Regions from separate parts of the Homo sapiens genome. Here region 1 is linked to region 2. The links come from fine-mapping of genetic effects on gene expression. A gene starts in region 2. The other region holds a variant in brackets. All regions are shown on one strand. Distances are from middle to middle.

Evidence for each region. PIP is the estimated chance that this variant, and not a neighbour inherited with it, causes the effect. A credible set is the group of variants that fine-mapping cannot tell apart.
Region 1: its variant is the best candidate, but not a certain one, in a credible set for the expression of CAPN10-DT in esophagus mucosa (GTEx, PIP 0.79).

What each region holds. Positions count from the first base shown.
Region 1 is chr2:240,605,322-240,610,690 of GRCh38, reverse strand. It overlaps a transcript of GPR35 not described here. Among named protein-coding and RNA genes, the nearest start is that of GPR35, 17 kb to the left of the region's middle. The variant A/G (reference allele first, on the strand shown) is at 2,221.
Region 2 is chr2:240,584,207-240,589,575 of GRCh38, reverse strand. It overlaps CAPN10-DT (CAPN10 divergent transcript), which reads left to right and starts at 3,260. Exons shown (of 1, transcript NR_103792.1): 1 at 3,260-5,369. It overlaps CAPN10 (calpain 10), which reads right to left and starts at 2,842. Exons shown (of 12, transcript NM_023083.4): 1 at 2,524-2,842; 2 at 102-233. The coding sequence starts at 2,664. RefSeq lists a silencer at 2,576-2,805 and enhancers at 2,005-2,831, 2,770-3,064, 3,116-3,295, 4,286-4,655, 5,026-5,095.

The DNA.
Region 1 (5,369 bases), 21 kb before region 2:
TGCACTCCAGCCTGGGTGACAGACCAAGACTGTCTCAAAAAAAGAAAAAAAAAAGTTAAAAACTTAGCCACGTGTGGTGCCACATGCCTGTAGTCCTAGCTACTTGGGAGGCTGAGATGGGAGGATTGCTTGAATCTAGGAGTTTGAGGCTGCAGTGAGCCCTGATGGTACCACTGTATTCCAGGCTGAGTGACAGGAGACTCTTCGTCTTAGGGGAAAAGAAAGCAAGAAATGACAATATGCTGTCTGCCTGATATGATATATACTTTAAATATAAACAAAAGTTAAAAGTAAAAGAATGAAAACAATGTAAAAGAATGGAAAAATTTATAAAATGCAAGCATTAATTATAAGAAAGCAGGAATAAAAATATTAACATCAAAGTAGACTTTAGTATAGGGAATATTGCAAAATAAAAAAAGGGACATTTCACGGACCAGCGTGTTGGCTCACGCCTGTAATCCCAGCACTTTGGGAGGCTGAGGTGGGCAGACCACAAGGTCAGGAGCTTGAGACCAGCCTGGCCAAGATGGTGAAACCCCGTCTCTACTAAAAATACAAAAATTAGCCAGGCGCAGTGGTGGGCACCTGTAATCCCAGCTACTCAGGAGGCTGAGGCAGGAGAATCACTTGAACCCAGGAGGCGGAGGTTGCAGTGAGCTGAGATTGCGCCACTGCACTCTAGCCTGGTTGACAGAGCGAGACTCCATCTCAAAAAAAAAAAAAGGATATTTCATATGAAAAAAGGGTCAATTCATCAAGAATATCTAACAATTCTAAATGTGTATGTACCTAATTACAAAGAATCCAAAAAATGAAGGAAGCTGATAGAACTGAAAGGATAAACAGACAAATTCATGATTGTGATCGGTTATTATGACACCCTCATCTCAGTAACTCACAGAACAAGTAAACCAAAAATTAGTAAGAATATGATAGCCCTGAGCAACACCAATCATCTTATCCAAACTGATGTTTATAGAACACTATGCCCAACAACAGCAGAATATATAATCTTTTCAGGTGCACATTGAACATTTTCCAAAATAGTCCATCTGCTAGGCCATAAATTAAGCCTCCATAAAATTAAAAAGATTTAAGTTATACAGAATATGTTCTCTAACTACAACAGAGCTTAATTAGAAATCAATAGCAACAAGGTATAAGACACACAAAGAATGCCCAAATATTTGAAAATTAAGCAACACATTTAAATAACTCAGGGATCAAAGAAGTAATCAAGGAGACATAAGAAAATACTTTGAACTAAGTGATGATAAAAATGCAACTTTCCGGTCTTTGTGAGATAAGGTTAGTGTGATGCTTAGAGGAAAATCTGTAGCTCTCAGTGTTCATGTTAGGAAAGAAGAAAGGTCTAAAATCATTACCTAAGATTCCACTTTGAGAATCTAGAAAACAACAACACCAAGAACAAATGAAACCCAAGTAAGCAGAAGAAATAAGAAAGAGTGAAAATTTGATGTACTAGCAGAAAAAAACGAAAATCAATAAAATGGAGATTGGTTATTTGAAAAGAAAAAAAAATTGAGAAAGCTCTGGCTAGATTGATCAAAGAAAAAAAATCCACAAATTACTAATATCAGGAATAAAAGATGAGACATCCCTTCAGACCCTACAGACATCAGAAGAATAATACAAGAATATTAGTAAGAACATCATGAAATTACATTTGACATCTTGATGAAATGGAAAAACATCTACTGAAAGTCACAACTTGCCAAAATTTACACAAGAAAAATAAAATGTAACAAGCTTATATCTATTAAAGTTGTTGAATTCATAATTTGAAGCCTTTCTACAAAGAAAATACCTCACCCAGATGGTGTTACTGATGAATTCCATCAAACACTTAAGAATAAAATAATACCAATCTTAACCACATCAGAAAAAAGGAGAAACACTGGCCAGCTCATTTTCTAAGTCAAGTTTTACCCTGTACCAAAACTGGACAAAGATATTACAAGAAAAGAAAACTACAGGCCAATATCATGCATAAACATAGACATAAAATCCTTAATAAAATATTAGCAAATCAAATCCAGCAATATATAAAACAAATAACACATCATGAAAAAGTATGCAAGAAATAAAAGGTTTATTTTAGCATTAGAACATCAATTAATAGAATAAATGGTAAAATGTATATATTTATCTCAATGGATGCAGAAAAATATTTGACAAAATGCAACATCCATGAAT[A/G]ATAGAAACTCTCGGCAAACTAGAAAGAGAAGAGAACTTCCTCAACGTGATAAAGATCACCTATAGATAAACTATAGGAAACTTCAAGCTGGGCAATGGTAAAAGACCAAACTTTCTCACTATACTCAGAAACAAACGAAGTGGCTCTCACATTTCTATTAAAAACGGTATTGGAGGTCCCAGCCAGAGGAAATAAGGCAAGGGAAAAAAGCAGATAGAAAAGGAAGAAGTAAAATTACCTATGGTCACATGTGACATAATCATGCATGTAGAAAATTCAGCTTGGCACAGTAGCTCAGGCCTGTAATCCCAACATGTGGGGAGGCTGAAGTGAGAAGATCGCTTGAAGATAGGAGTTCAAGACCAGCCCGAGCAACATAGCAAGACCCAATCTCTACAAAACATATAAAAATTAGCCAGGCATGATGGTGCACACCTGTAGTCCTGGCTACTTGGGAAGCTGAGGTGGGAGGATCACTTGAGCCCAGGAGTTTGAGACTACAGTGAGTTAAGATTGCATCACTGTACTCCAGCCTGGGCAACAGAGTGAGCCCCTGTCTCAATTTAAAAACAAAAAAGAGAAGAAGAAGAAGAAAGAAGAAAGAAGAGGAGGAGGAGGAGGAGGAAGAGAAGGAGGAGAAAGAAGAAAAAGAAAATCCTAAGGCAGAAGAAAAAGAAGAGGAGGAAGGCGGGGAGTCGGGAGAAAAAGAAAATCCTAAGGCATTTACCAGAAAAGAACAAAAGAAGCAAAAAACACTATGAACTAATAAATGCATTATCAAGGTTACAGGATACAAGATTAATATACCAAAAAATGCACTTCTATATACTAGCAAAAAACAATTGGAAAATAAAACTAAAGATACAATACCATTTACAAGCATTGGAAAACAAAGTACCTAGGCACAAGTGGGAAACGTATGCTTGAAGTTACAAAATATTGCTGGGAGAAATTAAAGAAGATCCAAATAAATGGACAGGGTTCAGCACAGTGGCCCCAGCCTATAATCCCAGCACTCCGGGAGGCCAAGGTGGGTGGATTGTTGGAGTCCAGGCGTTTGAGACTAGCCTGGGCAACATAGCGAAACCCTGTTTCTACTAAAAAACAAAAATGCAAAAAATTAGCCAGGTGTGGTGATCTGTGCTTGTAGTCCCAGCTACTCGGGAGGCTAAGGTGGGAGAATCACCTGAGCCCAGGAGGTTGAGGCTGCAGTGAGCTGAAATCCTGCCACTGGACTTCAGCCTGGACAAACAGAGTGAGATCCTGTCTCAAAAAAAAAAAAAATTTTTAAAAAATTAAAAATAAGTAAATGGATGGGTATACCACGTTCATAGATTGAAATATGTCAGTCCTCCTCATAGTCATCTATGTGATCAATCCAATCAAGCATTAAGCACCATGCCCCAATGGTTTTGCTTCCTGGGTATATGTCAACACTAGCCTATTCTCCTCTCCATCACCTCCCACCTAACCCAGGACACCACCTTAATGTCTGCAACAACTTTTTAGTTGGTCCTCTACTTCCAATTCATCCTCGAGACTTCAGCCAGAGAAAGATTTCAAACATATGTATGTTAGGCCCTGCTTTAAACTATGTAGTGGCTCCCAATTGCCCAGGAGATAAGACTCAGGCTCCTTAAACAACACTTAAGGCCCCTGCTTACATCTCCAGCCTCAGCTCTTGCCATATTCTCCAAGCCCACTCCCCGCACTGCAGGCACAGAGAGCTTCTTTCAATTCCCTGAGGGTGCCCAGCCCCTTTCCTGCCCTTGGCTGACCCTCAGCTGGTCAAGGAATACCCCCCCTGCCACTCTCACCTGTTCTTCTATGAACCCCCTGTCTGAGTCAATGGATTACCTTTGTGCAGACGGTCCTCCCTAATGGATCATGCATGCCATGGGGGCAGGGGTGAAGGATGTCACGGCCGCATCCACAGCTATCAGCAGTGTGCCTGCCACCCCACACATGTGCTTAGGAGGCCTCAGGATGGAGGGACAGTGGGCAGCAAGATGGTGGAAAGTGATGCGTCCACGCTTTTGATGTCCTCAGAGGGCTTGGAGAAGGAGCAATGAGCCCATGTCAGCTGCAACACAGAGACAGGCACACAATGCCACAGTGCCCGATGTCACGTCCATCCAGGCCCCAGCCCAAGCCTGGCTGCTCCTCCCCTGGCAGATTCATAAAAGGACTGGGTGTCCCAGGCAGCTAAGATGGGCCCAGCCTGAGCCTTGACCTGGGTAAGGGACACTGCATATGCCCGACTAAACCTACTAAACCTGGTGCCATGTTCCCTGGGATCCCTGAGTGAGTGTTGTGGTCCCAGCCCAGATCTGAGGCAGTGCTGTCTATGTGGACACTGGCTATACCTGCTGGGGACTAGAGAGGAATGGCCGGGTTTGGGGGGCAGCACTAACCAGATGGCCTGCAAGCTATGGCCAGAGCCCTGCAGCCATGGTCTGAGCTCCCCAGGATGCTACAGAGAGCCGAGAGCTCCGGAGACTCCCAGGTCAGCCTGCCTGCCAAAGCCTTTCCTCCAAAGCAGAAAAGACCCTTCCCCTGATGAAGCAGCCATGTGCAGGGCTTCACGTTGGGATCAAAAGGCCCCAAATTATCCCCAGGAATAAAATGATTCTTCCACTAGTTTCAAAAGGCAGCAAAACTAGCTTAAGTCTGGCAAAAATTAGGTGAAAACAAACAAACAAAAAAAGCAAAACCAAATGAAGACTCCAAGGGACAGCGAGCAAGGCGCAACCATGAAGAAAGCACGAGCCCAAAGTCCAGGTCTGAACACCTTGGCCCCAGCCTGGCCGGCCGCATCCTGTGTCCTGCCCGGGCAGCCCTGCCCCGACCAGCCCTCTCCCTGACTACCGCTCTCAGGACACAGGATCTCGACACTCACCCCAGAAGCTCTGCTGCCCCCAAGGCTGGCCCAAGCCTGGAGGACTGTGAAAGAGAAGACGGCAGTATCAGGACCGGGTGGGACACGGCTCCCACCAAGGAGTCACCAACTGCTGTGCCTGGAGCTGGAAGTGACTAAAGGAAGGAACCCAGGCAGGTGGTGTGGGACAAAGTCCACAGGAAAGGCCAGGAAGGAGGTGCTCTCATGGGACACACCCAGTCCTGCCCGTCCGGATCTGCCAGGGCCACC
Region 2 (5,369 bases):
CGGCACAGCTCTGCTTTCGCAAGGCCTCCTGGTACTCAGCAGGCTGGAGAAACGCAAAAAGAAACCGGCTCCAGGACAAACACAGGGAAGGGGCCCCGCACCTGGTCCAGGAGGTGCCTGCTCTTCTGCAGCGCGGCGCAGGCACACAGGAACCAGCAATCCCCCAGCAGCCCCTGCTTCACCTGCCCTTCCCGTGGGTCATCTGGAAACAGCCGGGGTGTGGCACAAATCTCCTGAGATACAGAAAGTTGTCCAGAGTTAGATCATGCCTGCTGTGGAACCCTTCAAACTAAGAACCCAAGGCTCTAGATGACAGGAGTTGGGGTGGAGCTTTTCCGATCATCAGTGTTACCCAAAAAGGGACAGGAAGGTGGTTTCCTGCAGCGGGTGTCCTTCAGCTCCTGGCTTCAAATGCCTCTGTCCAGCTTAATTCTGGGGTGCCTTCCTTCCTTACTGGAAAAATCCCAAACTCTAGCAAGCTCCTTCTCAAAACAGCTAAATGTTGGCTTCGAAAAGTTTCACTTTTTACTCATGCTGGTAAATCTCAAATGTGTCCTCCATCCTGCTGGAAATCTGTTTCTCTAGCAGGCTCCATTTCCCACACCCCCTAACTATCATATACCTTCCCCTTTCTCCCCGTCTACTCAAAACATCCACACTGCCCTTGCCCACCCCTCTGAGCTTCGACCTTGCCTCCTGCTTCTGGACCTGACCCTCTCTCCTGCCCTCAGAGCCTGGGCTCCTCTCACAACTCCTTCCCTTCCAGCTCCCCGGGCAGAATCCCACCCCCATGTTCTTTAAGACATTATCTCTCAGCACCATAGTCTCCTTCAGGCTTCTCTTCATTACAGCTCTTGAAAGAGCTGCCATGCCCACTACCTGCTTCCCATTCACTCTCCACACAGGCTCCTCTAGCTTCTGAGCCAATCATGGCCCCTAAACTGCCTCGATCAATGTCGCTGTCACCTCTATGTTATCAAACCCACTGGGCTTCTCTTGGTCCCAACTCTCTTCCCCAACTACTCAGCAGCATTCACAACAGCAGAACAGCCATCTGCTGCCCCTGAGGTGGTCCCCACTCAGCTTCTGTGAGGCCGCATGCTCCCCGGGTGTCCTCTCCCTCACTGCCTGCTGCTTCTCAAGTCTATCTGTCAGGGCACCTGCCTGACCCCAAGAAATGTTAGGGTTCCTCAAGGCTCAGCCCCAAGGCCCCCTTCTTCTTTACTGATACTCCCCCGAGACACTCTCCCAGGCTGTGGACTGTAAACCATCTAATATGCTCCGCCTCCCAGAAGAATGCCTCTAGCCTATCCCTGCTCCGTATCCACCTGCCTCCAGGACAGATCCACCTGCCTCCAGGACAGCTCCACCTGAAGACGTGAGAGCAAAGCCCAACTCTAGGTCACCCCCAGGCTCTGTCCCAGGACCACCATCCACCCACCTGTTCAGGCCAGAAACCCAGAAGGCATGTTGATCCCTCCACTATCCTCACCCTCTATTTCAATCAGTCACTATGGCCTCTCGATCCCCCCTGCAAGGTACGTCTCAAACCAATCTACTCCAAACCCACATCCTAACAGTCGTCAAGCTAATCTGAGCCCCTTCATCTTTCTCCAGGACCACTACAATGGACCCTTGCATTCTTGCCCCGACAACCCACTTCCCACCCAGCAGCAAGAGTGAGCTTGTAAAAACACACATCCAAGAGAACCACTCCTCTACCAAAACCCTCTAGTGGCCTCCAGCTGCACCTAAAATCAATCTTTTAACAAAATAAAACCCAAATTCCAATGACAAGGCTCTACATGGTCTGACCCTTGCCTCCTCCCAGGCCCTTCAGTGTTGTCCAAGGAAACCAGGTGGCCTGTCAAAGCCATCTCAGTCACGAGAGCCCAGAAGTTCCAGCTCTGTTCGAAGACTGGCGGCCATCAGTTGTCTCCGCTAAGACCGCATCCACTTAGGGCAAGGTTGCTCCCTGGGCAGTCTTATTCAGCAGATAAACCATTTCTAAAAATATGAACACAGCACTCGGCCAGGGCATCCCTTGGAGGTGCCATTTCTAGGTGTTACAACTGGAAAGGCAGGTGCACAAAATCCAAAACTGAAATTCTATCACGCTTTGCTTTGTGGGCTCGGCCTAGCCACTTCAGAGGGGCACGAGCGGCCCTCTCTGCGGGAGGAGCAGACACAAACGCTCTTCAGGGCGAAAGCAAACAGGTGGGGCGGGGTTTGGGGCTCTGTTAAAACGCCTCTCGCAGCGCTCTGAGCCTCCTGGATTGGAGCTCTCGCAGGCGGAGGCCACGACCTAGTTTAGCGTCCTTAGGGTAGCGCCGAGTCCTGCTCGTTCTGGGCGGGGGTATGAAGGAGGTACGAAAAGAGGGGGCCGGGCGCCCACTTCTGAGGAGAACAACGGCGGACCCTGCGTTCGGAGCTACCCTGGCCGCCCACCCCGCCCCGCTCCCTGCGAGGAGCGGAGATCTCAGAAACCAGAAACGGCGCCCACCGCACCCCACACGGCCCCACCTGGGGCCGCCTCCACGTGATGTCCTCGCGGAACTGGGCCAGCGGCGTAGACAAGTCGCAGAAGAGCGAGGAGTCCGCGGCGGGGAAGGCGGCGTCCCGGAACAGCTCCCTCGCCGGCGTCGCGCCCCGGCCCGCCCGCATCCTCGGCTCCGCGGGCTCCCATCTGCAGCCGGTTGCCTCGGGGTCGCAGCCCCGGAGAGAAGGCGAGTCAGCCGCCGCCGCCTCCGGCCCGCCCCGCCCGTTCCCCGCCCGGCCCAGCCCTCCAAGCCCGAGGGCCCCGCAGGTGCTGGACCAGGCCAGTACGCCGGCCCGCTAGTCTCCCATTGGTAACCAGGCGGCAGCCAACCGGGCGTGGGGTCTCGGGTCACGTGACAGGCGGCCCAATCGCACTCGCGCGACGGAAAGCGCCACGGACGTCGGAGGCCCAGGGGGCGGGGCTCCCGAGCTCCGCTCTTTCGTGGTCGGGCGGCGGACCGCACTGTATTTTTTCCTTCCGGGGGCGGCGGAGCCCAGGGCTATCCCGGCCTCCGCTCATACCCGGAGGGCCGGCAGGCGTTCAGTCCTCCAGCCGGTGAGGCTCGGGCCGGGGTGTCGGGACCGCCTGAACACGCGGGCTCTGGGAGCTTCAGGGACCAGGGAGCCACCTCGGCCGAGTTGCGTCGCAGACTACAGCTCCCAGCATGCGCCGCCGCTCCCAGCATGCACCTTCCTCCCGAAACGCGTCTCTGCTTCCGGCGCTCTGCTGCGGAGGCCGTGGCCGCGGGTAGTTGGGAGGAACCGAGATTTACGCTTGGTAAGGCAAGTTGCGAGCTGTCCGGCGCCGGTCGAGTTCCTGCCGCCGTCGTCGTCAGGCAGGGGAGAAGGGGGCCTCAACCCCTCTAGTGACAGCTGTTTGCTACCTAATAGGGCTTTTCATCCCACCGGGCCCCAGGGCCTTCGTTAGGAGCCCAGCAGGCTCAACTTCTTGCTGTGGTTCTGGAAAAGGGAGTGACCACCTGGCTCAACACCTCTCTCTGTGATGTGTTTGGGAGTTTTGGGAAATGAGACGGCTCCGAGGGAAGAGCTTGAGGGAGCGGCGTCGCACTCGTTCGACCTTCCCGGGCCTGGGCTTTGTTTCTAGGCATTTTAGGTTGAACGCTCTACATCTTAACTGGGGGCAGGGGAGGTGGCCAGAGCATCCCGCTGAGCGTTTTCCGATTCCCCAGATGGCCAGGCACCTGGTCCTGGTGGCTGGACAGTGACCCCGTGGACGCACATTTACAGCTATAGCCATTCAGTGCCGCGGGGAGGTGAGGATAGTGATCCTGGGACCTGCTCGAGGATTCACCCTTGCCCCAAGAACCTGTTCCATTCCCAGGAATGAAGGCGGTCAGGCAGGGGAGGAGAAGGGGGCCTCAACTCTTCTAGTGACAGCAGTTTGCCACCTAATAGAGCTTTTCAGATTTTGCCTCCTCAGGCCATTTTACTCAGCCTCGGACTATCAAGGATGGTCACATTGAAGCTGTTTTTCTGCAGTCAGGAGCGAAAAGTCCCGGCTGTTGAAGGAGAAACTGAATCTGGTTCAGGAGTCCCAGGTTCCTCCCTCTGAGAGGCCAGGTGGGGCCTGCGTGAGTAGCAGTTGTTCAGGTGGCAGGACACTGCTGTTTTCATCCCACCTGGCCCCAGGCCCCTGATTAGGGGCCCAGAGTGCTTATGTACTTGCCTCGGTCTGAGAAAGGGAGTGACTGCATAGCCCAACACCTGTGGGATGCCTCACTGCCCAGATGTTTCATCTCCGGGATGCTTCATTGCCCATTCAGCACCCTCTATGGTGCTGACTCTTCCGGAAGATGTTTCTGATTCCTTGCTAGGCTGGTGGTTGCACCATAGCTGAGAGGACTCAAGAAGAGCCTGGTCTCAGCTTCACCTAGGAGTCCCGGAGGAGTAAGAAACACGTATCTTTCCTGTTCTGGGCACATATGGGTGGGTAGCAGAGCTGAGGCTAGCTGAGGATCCCGACTCTCCTTTGGGAGCCTTTGTTGTGCCGCTCTCCCAGGCTGATCAGATCTGGAGAGCTAACAGCTTCCTGTGGCCACATCTGTGTCCAAGGCTGGGCCCATGCCTGTAGCCAGATTGCCAGGATCTGGAAGGGGCCAAGAGACAGCTGGTGCTGGGTAGGCAGCAGCCCTGTGTCAACCTGCCCCCACTATTACCCCATGCTGTGATTTGCATGTGGTCTGCCCCTGCCCAAAATGGTATTGAAATTTGAGCCTCAATGAGGCAGTGTTAGGAGGTGGTGCCTAGTAGGAGGAGTTTGGGTAATAGGGGTGGATCCCTCATGGATAGGTTAGTGTCCTTTGTGGAGGGGTGAGTTCCCATGAGAGCTGGTTAGAGAGTCAGCCTTCCTGCGGTTGTCTCTTGCTTCCTCTCTCGCCATATGGCCACGTAATCTCTTTGTGCATGCCTCTCCCCTTCTACTTGCTGCCTTGAGTTGAAGTAGCATGAGGCCCTCACCAGGTGCAGCTGCCCAATCTTGAAATTTCCACCAGAATTTTGAGCCAAATAAACCTGTTTTGCTTTTTTAAAAAAATAAATTCCCCCACCTTGGCTGGGCGCAGTGGCTCACGCCTGTAATCCCAGCACTTTGGGAGGCCGAGGCGGGCGGATCACGAGGTCAGATCGAGACCATCTTGGCTAACACGGTGAAACCCCATCTCTACTGAAAAAAAAAAAGAAACAAAAAAATTAGCCAGGTGTGGTGGCGGGCACCTGTAGTCCCAGCCCCTCACTCGGGAGGCTGATTGAGGCAGGAGAATGGTGTGAACCCGGGAGGCGGAGCTTGCAGTGAGCCCAGATCGCACCACTGC